Linked DNA regions of Homo sapiens: region 2 is linked to region 1. Evidence: fine-mapped expression QTL. A gene starts in region 1. The other region holds a variant in brackets. All regions are shown on one strand. Distances are between the middles of the regions. Region 1 holds the start of SELENOT (selenoprotein T). Region 2 overlaps EIF2A (eukaryotic translation initiation factor 2A).

Region 1 (4,397 bases):
AACAAACAACAAGCTAAGTTGATCTGTATTTGGTGGGTCTTATTAATAACGTTATTTCCCATCTACAGATTAAACAAAAAATGATCTCCGGTGGATAGTGTCAGAAAAATAAAAATAAAAATAATTTTTTAAATGGAAGCATTTTTGTTATATAACATGCTCAGAGTGACTGTAAAAGAAAATTATTAGACTTTTGGGACAGGTCTGTACTTAAAAACAAAGAAAAACAAAGTATCAAAAGTTTAACTGAAGTACTTACTACTTTTTTTTTAAGTTTAATTTGAAGGACTGAATGCCCTTCCCTACGTTTGTTTACACATTTTGAAAACCTTGCTATGAATAGCCTTGGTGGAAGATACACCTGGTAAATTATTGTGACAAGTGTTCCAAAAAAAGCAAACGTAAAAGGGGTATTTTGGAAAAGCAAAAATACAACCAAGAGATAAAAGTAGGATACAGAAAAATTAAATAATTTGAAAACTGCAATTTTTTAACACTTAAATCCGTAAGTATCACAACCCTTAACAATCTTTAGGTTAGTAAGATGATTACCACCTTCTAATTTAAAAATTAAGGAAAAAAGTTAATGGATAAACCATTCTCCCATTTGCAGTATTACATGAAAGATGATATATTCCAGAAACATAGTACATTGTACAGGGAGGTTTTTTTTTTTTTTTTTGAGACGGAGTTTCGCTCTTGTTGCCCAGGCTGGAGTGCAATGGCGCGTTCTCGGCTCACCGCAACCTCCGCTTCCCGGGTTCAAGCGATTCTCCTGCCTCAGCCTCCCAAGTAGTTGGGATTACAGGCATGCGCCACCACGCCAGGCTAATTTTTGTATTTTTAGTAGAGATGGGGGTTTCTCCATGTTGGTCAGGCTGGTCTCGAACTCCCGACCTCAGGTGATCCGCTAGCCTCGGCCTCCAAAGTGCTGGGATTACAGGCGTGAGCCAGCGAGCCCGGCCTTGTTTGTTTTTAATCAGGAGAAATTGCAATGTTTTAGTTTTCACTCAAAAAAATAAAGTCTCACCATCTTATTTTCTAACTCAAACATCACCTTAAGCCGATTTTTAAAAATTATTTTAAAGGTTTGCTTGGTCTTCAGTGAGTAAGTAAAAAGCTAGTTGGAGAAGTAGAAAATCAAAACTTTAATATACTAATACATGAAGTTCTTAAAAGAAGGTTTTAAATGAATGATGTCCAACACCAACATTCCAATGTATCCGGACTCTGATGATTTACTAATCTGGCTATTCTGGGATGGTCGGTTTATCCTGAGAAAATGTCATCTTTGGAGGTGTAAGATTCTCATTTCTATAATTTTACAATTTTGGTGTTTTTTCCCCCATCTTCAGAGCCTTTCAATCCCCACCCGCAACCCCACTTACCGTATAAAATGCATCATTGCCCTGCTTCTAACGATTAGGTTAAAAACAAAATCATTTAAAGAACACTGTCGAAAACTGCCGAGATCTGCTGGATACACAAGACAACTGAAAGGTAGAAAGAGATGCCAGAGCAGGCAACTCCTGGGAGGCAGGTGAGGAGGGAATGCGAGCGAACTGTCAATGTTTAGAAGAACAACGTGCTCCTTTTCTGACACTTTGGAAATGGCAAACAGAACCAGCATCCCCAGACCTTCCTTCCACCCCCTCCAGCTGTCAGACGCCCCATTCGCAAACTCAACAGTCCCCCCAGCAAGTTCAGGAGAAAAACGGCGTCTGTCACTCCCGGATCCTCTCCAATGACCCGAATTAACCTTCATCTAGCCAGGCAGCGAAGCCGCCCGGCATTACCCCGGAAAAGAGGGCAGAAAAAGTGAACTGACAAACGGTTGGCGCTCCTCCGCCGACGCGGCGCCTACTCATCCCCATCTCCGCAGGCAGCCGGGGTGGCTATGGCGTGACGCCGCCAACCAGTCCTCCGTACTAACAGGTGTCCCCCAGTCTTCGCCTTTCAGCGTTTAACCTTCTCGCGCCCTCCTTCCCCATTCCCACTGTTCTAGGAGGCAAAAAACAAGTGAGCAGTTATACCTGGAAAAGGAGGGCGGCCTGACCGCGCTAAGGGGCCGCGAGAAGGCTGGCTGTGGAAGGGCGCCGGCACAGTTCTACGAGGCCAGCGAAGATGCGGCCATTTAGGCCGCGAAGCCGGGGCCTCGCGTAGCCAATGGCGCCGAGCAGAGGCGCGGCGGGGTGGCCGGGGCCCAGTGCACATACTCACCAAATCTGGAACTTGAGCAGCGGCCCCGTGGCGTACTGCATCTTTAATCTCTTGCTGGGCACGCCGCCCAGATTGGCCGAGGCCTCGCTCCGGACCATCGCAGACGCCGCCACTAGGAGAAGCAGCAGAAGCCTCATCTTAAATGAGCCAGCCACTTCGGCCGCCCTCAGACAGACTGCAGCCAGCCCAAAGCCCAGGAGCGAGCTGCTCCCCACTGCGCAGGCGCGATCAGCCAAGGTCGGGGGAGGGGAGCAGTAATGCGCCTGCGCGGCCCGGCGCCCGCGCACACTCCTGGAGTGAAGAGCCGACCTGTTTCACTGTCCTGACTCACCACCATCTTGGTAGTGTGCAAGACTCTGGGACGGCATGAGAAAGGCAGAAAGGGAGCAAAGGAGCTGGTGGGGTGTCACAGGGCCTATGTATGAGGCAGATGTGAGTTCTGCATCCAGTTTTGCAATTTATCCATTTACCTGCCTGAGACTTGGAAACACCTACTTTATAGTCCTGATTCAAGTGTTGGCGGATGGAAGGGAGGAGACTCCTGACCCTCAGAATGGTAATGCTGAAATTTTTTGGGTGCGCTGTTATGGCCTTTTCTTTGATCTTACAATATTGCTTTCTCCTGAAAGAATATTAAACATAAGTTTTAGGAAACCTTTGGACAATTCCAAACATATCCAAAAATAGAATAACTACCTTAGCAAGCTTTAACAGTTACTATACATTTTGACAATCTTGATTTGTCTATATCTCTAAACACTTCTTCCCTTCCTAGGCATATTTGGAAGCAAATCTCAGACATCATATCATTTCATCTGTATATATATATTTTTAAACACGGTCTCACTGTCACCCAGGCTGGAGTTCAGTGGCGTGATCATAGCTTACTGCAGCCTCACACCCCTGGGCTCAAGCAGTCCTGCCTCAGCTTCCCAAGTGGTTAGGAATACAGGCACAGGCAACTATGCCTGGCTTACAATTATTTAAGCACATATTTCTAAAAAAGAATTATTATTAAAAAGAAAAAAAATTGACCACAGTGTTTCACATGTCCGTGTGAAGAGACTACCAAACAGGCTTTGTGTGAGCAACACAGCTGTTTATTTCACCTGGGTGCAAGCGGGCCGAGTCCGAAAAGGGAGTCAGCAAAGGGTGGTGGGATTATCATTGGTTCTTATAGGTTTTGGGATAGGCGGTGGAGTTAAGAGCAATATTTTGGGGGCAGGGGTTGGATCTCACAAAGTACATTCTCAAGGGTGGGGAGAATTACAAAGAACCTTCTTAAGGGTGGGGGAGATTACTGATCAACAAAGTACATTGATCAGTTAGGGTGGGGCAGAAACAAATCACAATGGTGGAATGTTATCAGTTAAGGCTATTTTCACTTCTGTGGATCTTCAGTTGCTTCAGGCCATCTGGATGTATATGTGCAGGTCACTGGGGATATGATGGCTTAGCTTAGGCTCAGAGGCCTGACATTCCTGTCTTCTTATATTAATAAGAAAAATAAAACAAAATAGTGGTAAAGTGTTGGGGCAGCGAAAATTTTTGGGGGTGGTATGGAGAGATAATAGGCGATGTTTCTCAGGGCTGCTTCGAGCGAGATTAGGGGCGGCGTGGGAACCCACAGTGGGAGAGATTCAACTGAAGAAAGATTTGGGGGTAAGGGGTGATATTGTGGGGTTGTTAGAAGGAGCATTTGTCGTATAGAATTATTGGAGATGGCCTGGATGCAGTTTTGTATGAATTGAGAAACTAAATGAAAGACACAAGGTCCGAATAAAAGAAGGAGAAAAATAGGTATTAAAGGACTAAGAATTGGGAGTACCCAGGACATCCAATTAGAGAGTGTCCAAGGGGGTTCAACGTTGTTGTCTGCTTGGTTGGAGAGTTTTTGGGCTCTATCTCTATCCTTAAGTTTTTTTATGTTGTCATATACCAGGCCAGATTGATTTAGGTAAAAACAACACTCTTCATTTAAAAATATACAAAGTCCTCCTTTTTCAGCAGTGAGTAAGTCGAGGCTTCAGTGATTTTCAAGGAAAGAGAGGAGGTGGGAAGGCCAAACTGAGGAATTATGTCTGACAGAAGGGAAGAAATGACCGCGGTGGCCTTCTTAGACCCTGTGGGAAAGGCCTCTACCCACCCAGTGAAATGTCTACCCAAACCAAGAGGTA
Region 2 (4,397 bases), 23 kb after region 1:
ATTGGACCTGGGTGATGTTTCTGGCTTTGAGAGAAATCTCAATGAGAGCATTCTGAAAGATTGTTGGTCCAAAGTCCTGCCCGATAAAAAGTGAATGAAAGAGAAACCTCATAATGCAGCTGTGAAGGGCTCTAGAGACCTTTTTTTATCCCCAGGGCCACCCCAGCACACTGGCTGCAATATCACAAATCAATACACTTCTTTTTTGTCTCTGTCTCTTCATCTTCAAAACTAGGATAAATATCTGCCCCTAATTATCACAAGGTATCTAATGAAATACTGAGTATAAAAGTATTGAGTGACCAGGTGCAGTGGCTCACACCTGTAATCCCAGCACTTTGGGAGGCTGAGACAGGCAGATCATGAGGTCAGGAGATTGAAACCATCCTGGCTAACACGGTGAAACCCCGTCTCTACTAAAAATACAAAAAATTAGCCAGGTGTGGTGGCAGGCGCCTGTAGTCCCAGCTACTCGGGAGGCTGAGGCAGGAGAATGGCCTGAACCCGGGAGGCGGAGCTTGCAGTGAGCCGAGATCGCGCCACTGCATTCCAACCTGGTCGACAGAGCAAGACTCTGTCTCAAAAAAAAAAATTAAATTAAATTAAAAAGTGTTCAGTGGCCAGGCGAGGAGGCTCACAAATCCCAGCATTTTGGGAGGTCGAGGCGGGTGGATTACCTGAGGGCAGGAGTTTGAGACCAGCCTGGCCAACATGGTGAAACCCTGTCTCTACTAAAAATATAAAAATTAGCCAGGCGTGGTGGCGCACACCTGTAGTCCCAGCTACTCGGGAGGCTGAGGCAGGAGAATCGCTTGAACCTGGGAGGCGGAGGTTGCAGTGAGCCAAGGTTGTGGCACTGTACTCCGGCCTGGGCAACAGGGCAAGACTCCGTCTCAAAAAAAAAAAGTGTTCAGTATATTTCTATGCTGATGCACACTGAATTTTATTACTCCAAAAATCAAAGTACTAAGAGTCTTCAGACATTTATGAATAGAACTAAAATCAATACCATTCCTAAGTGAACAGTGCTTCATAGTGAGAAAACAACAATGAGAACTGCTGATACCAACTTCTTAGATACCTGTCTTTAGGCATCTAAGTACTCTCTTACTTATATAATTTTCATGTATACCTTTCAATATGCACATCTGTTTTTAAGTCTCTCACCTTCTTTAGGTTCTTGATTTTTTTGTCTATCTCAGGGTCCCCAGAAATTGACTGAGAGACAGTGTTTCGTGGTGTGCTCTGTGGGGCAGGAGTAGGTGCCAAATCTGGACTCTTGTCACTTCTTGCTTCCTGCAGGAAATATTTTTTTAAATTCAATTTTAAAAGCCAAAAACATTACAGTATTTAAATCAACATAGCTTTGGCATATGAAATACAGAAACTAAATATGTGATTTTATCTACATTTTATATAAAGAATCTGAATTAAAGGTCTCATGAAGTATGCTACATACTCCCATGTTAGAAATAAAATGACCTTATCAGAGTAAACCAGGAAGTTTCTGTACCAGCCAACAAGCATTCCAAACTTTTGCATATTCTGAGATGTGCCAGTAGATAGATGGTTTGAACATATGAGAGGGCTTTTCTATTTAAGGTGTTTAAAGTTTCACTCTTACAAGGCTCTCTCCAAAACTATAAAGAATATGTATGATCAAGTACCTGTAATGGATTATGCTACAAGAATAAGAATCCTACAGATATTAATTTATAATCAGATCAATTCAGCTCTGCAACAAAGTACCACAAAACTTTTTTCCCCTTAAAGGGATGCCATAATGCTTCCAATATGATCAGACCTCTGATAACTTTTCTTGTCCCTCCTCACTGATTCTGAATCACTTTTATTTCCGCTAAGGTGCTGTATACTCTTGCCCCTGGCCTTTGTGTACAGCAGTCTCCCTTAACCATGGTTTCAGTAACCAAGCGTCAACTGCAGCCCAAAAATATTACATGGAAAATCCCAGAAATAAACAATTCATAAGTTTTAAGCTGTGTGATGAAATCTCTCAGCATCCTGCCTAGAACGAGAATCATTCTTTTATCCAGTGTATCCACAGTGTATTCGCTCCCCACCTATTTTTCACTAGTAGCTGTGTTGGTTATCAGATCGACTGTCACAGTATCAACAGTAGTTGTGTTTAAGTAACCCTTATTTTACTTAATAATGGTCCCAAAGTGCAGAGTAGTGATGCTGGCAATTC[G/A]GATATGCCAAAGAGAAGCCGTAAAGTGCTCCCTTTAAGTGAAAAGGTGAAAGTTCTTAATAAGGAATAAAAAATATTGTATGCTGATTTGCTATGATTTACAGTAAGATTAAACCTATCCATGAACTTGGGAAGAAGAAAAAAGAGATTAGTGCTAGTTTTGCAGTTGCGCCTTGAACTGCAAGTTATAGCCGTGGTCATTCAACTTACCACACAAGCATTGTACCATCTCACATTGTCGCAAAAAGGGTGAATACAACACCATTAGATATTTTGAGAGACCATATTCACATATCTTTTATTACAGTATATTATTATAATTGCTCTATTTTCTTATGAGTTACTGTTAATCTCTTACTGTGTATCACAGTCTCTATAGGGTTCGGTACTATCTGTGGTTTCAGGCATAGCTCTGCCCCTCCAGGATAAAGGGAGACTACTATATATTGTTCCTTGTGCCTAGAACACCTTCCCCCACAAGTCACCTGGCTGAACCCTACTTATCCTTTAAGTCTTCTGGAAAATCTCCCCACCTTAAGACTGGATAGTCGCACCTTTCCCAGGCTCTCATAATGCCCAGTATTTTTCCCTACGGTAACACCATATTCTACCATTCCCCATTAGAACTGAGCCTCTAGCATAATACTTGCTTCGTTGCACAGGCTAAATAAATAAAAAATAAAGGAATGACTCTTCCTTTATAATTATGACAAGATATATATTTTGGTAAGAGGGGAAAAAATTATGTAAGTATTTATTGGCTCCAACGTAGGGTTTCTACTTCTTATAGAATTTCCAGTGGAATATATATATAATGCTCCAGGTCTCCATAACCTTTTACTCAGAGTTCTGGGTAGGATACTCTGAACTTTTAAAGCATCCTCAGATCCTCAGGGAACATAGAATAGGGTATCACTTCTAGATATTCAACTCTAAAAGTCTGCCTAAGAGTTTTTAGAAAATACAGAATTGAAGTCAATTTTTCTCTTTTTTTTTTTTTTTGGAGACAGAGTCTAGGCTGGAGTGCAGTGGCACGATTCCAGCTCATTGCAACCTCCACCTCCCGGGTTCAAGCGATTTTCCTGCCTCAGCCTCCCAAGTAGATGGGATTACAGTTACAGGCACCTGCTACCACACCCAGCTAATTTTGTATTTTTAGTAGAGATGGGGTTTCACCATGTTAGACAGGCTGATCTCGAACTCCAGACCTCAGGTGATCCACCCACCTCGGCCTCCCAAAGTGCTGGGATTACAGGTGTGAGCCACTGCATCCAGCCAATTTTTCTTTTTAAAGTCATGTTGGTTTCACTTTTTGGTACTATTTAATAAACAATTATTTACCTTCTACATGAAAACAAATTACTGGGCACTTTGAGAATTCGAAAGAAAATATTAAGTTTCTCCTCTTAAGGAGCCTGTAAGTTCTGGTAATAGGCAGTTTTATATTTTTCACAATATAAAATTAAAGTAGAAGAGTAAATAAAAGAAGAGGGGATATTCTGCCTATCAAAATTCACTTTTGATATCAGATTTTAAAAATATAAAATTTTAGTTGTTTGTAATGAGCTAAGAATATAGCTCTCTAGGAAGAAAGGTTAATCTTATCATGTGAAAAACCATTAAAATTAAGTGATATATAAAATTTATTTTTCCCCACAAACTAACCAAGAACAAGTTGAAATGTCTGCATTATTATACTTAAATTCTAGCCATTCTCTAGAAAGGACGTATATATGGTAAGATTAAATTCTTATGTTTCAACTCTTTTTTGGTAAAGTCAACAAACTTATAAAATTATCACCAGTTTACAAAAATACTAGTTAGATTACATATATCTGACTGCTCTATCTTTGACTATTTACTTCAGAGTCAGGACTAAGAAGGTCTGGATAAGGTGAGATTCTGTCAAGGGCCATTTAGCTTTGTTCCATCACACAGCCACAACTTTTACTAACTTCAGCCAGTCGTCCCCAAAATACATACTGAATAGTTTATCTTGCAAGTTGAAAACCTTTGCTATTACTGGAAAAACAACTCAAAAAGCAATTCCACAATGAGGGATTACTGGTATCACCTTTGGTATCATCTTTAGTAAAAAACGTGTGTAGGTGCTTGATGACTGTATTGGCTCTTTTAAAAAAAACTGACAGGTATAAACATATAACTGAGAGTTGTAAATTTATAACTG

What was found. PIP is the estimated chance that this variant, and not a neighbour inherited with it, causes the effect. A credible set is the group of variants that fine-mapping cannot tell apart.
Region 2: its variant is the best candidate, but not a certain one, in a credible set for the expression of SELENOT in whole blood (INTERVAL, PIP 0.68).

What each region holds. Positions count from the first base shown.
Region 1 is chr3:150,601,323-150,605,719 of GRCh38, reverse strand. SELENOT (selenoprotein T) reads right to left here and starts at 2,399. Exons shown (of 6, transcript NM_016275.5): 1 at 2,221-2,399. The coding sequence starts at 2,357. It overlaps LOC124900547 (a long non-coding RNA gene), which reads left to right and starts at 2,537. Exons shown (of 2, transcript XR_007096128.1): 1 at 2,537-2,776. RefSeq lists enhancers at 1,941-2,240, 1,515-2,288, 2,261-2,410, 2,531-2,610.
Region 2 is chr3:150,578,517-150,582,913 of GRCh38, reverse strand. EIF2A (eukaryotic translation initiation factor 2A) reads right to left here. Exons shown (of 14, transcript NM_032025.5): 12 at 1,168-1,296. All of the region lies in intron 1 of LOC124900547 (a long non-coding RNA gene), which reads left to right. Among named protein-coding and RNA genes, the nearest start is that of SELENOT, 23 kb to the left of the region's middle. The variant G/A (reference allele first, on the strand shown) is at 2,210.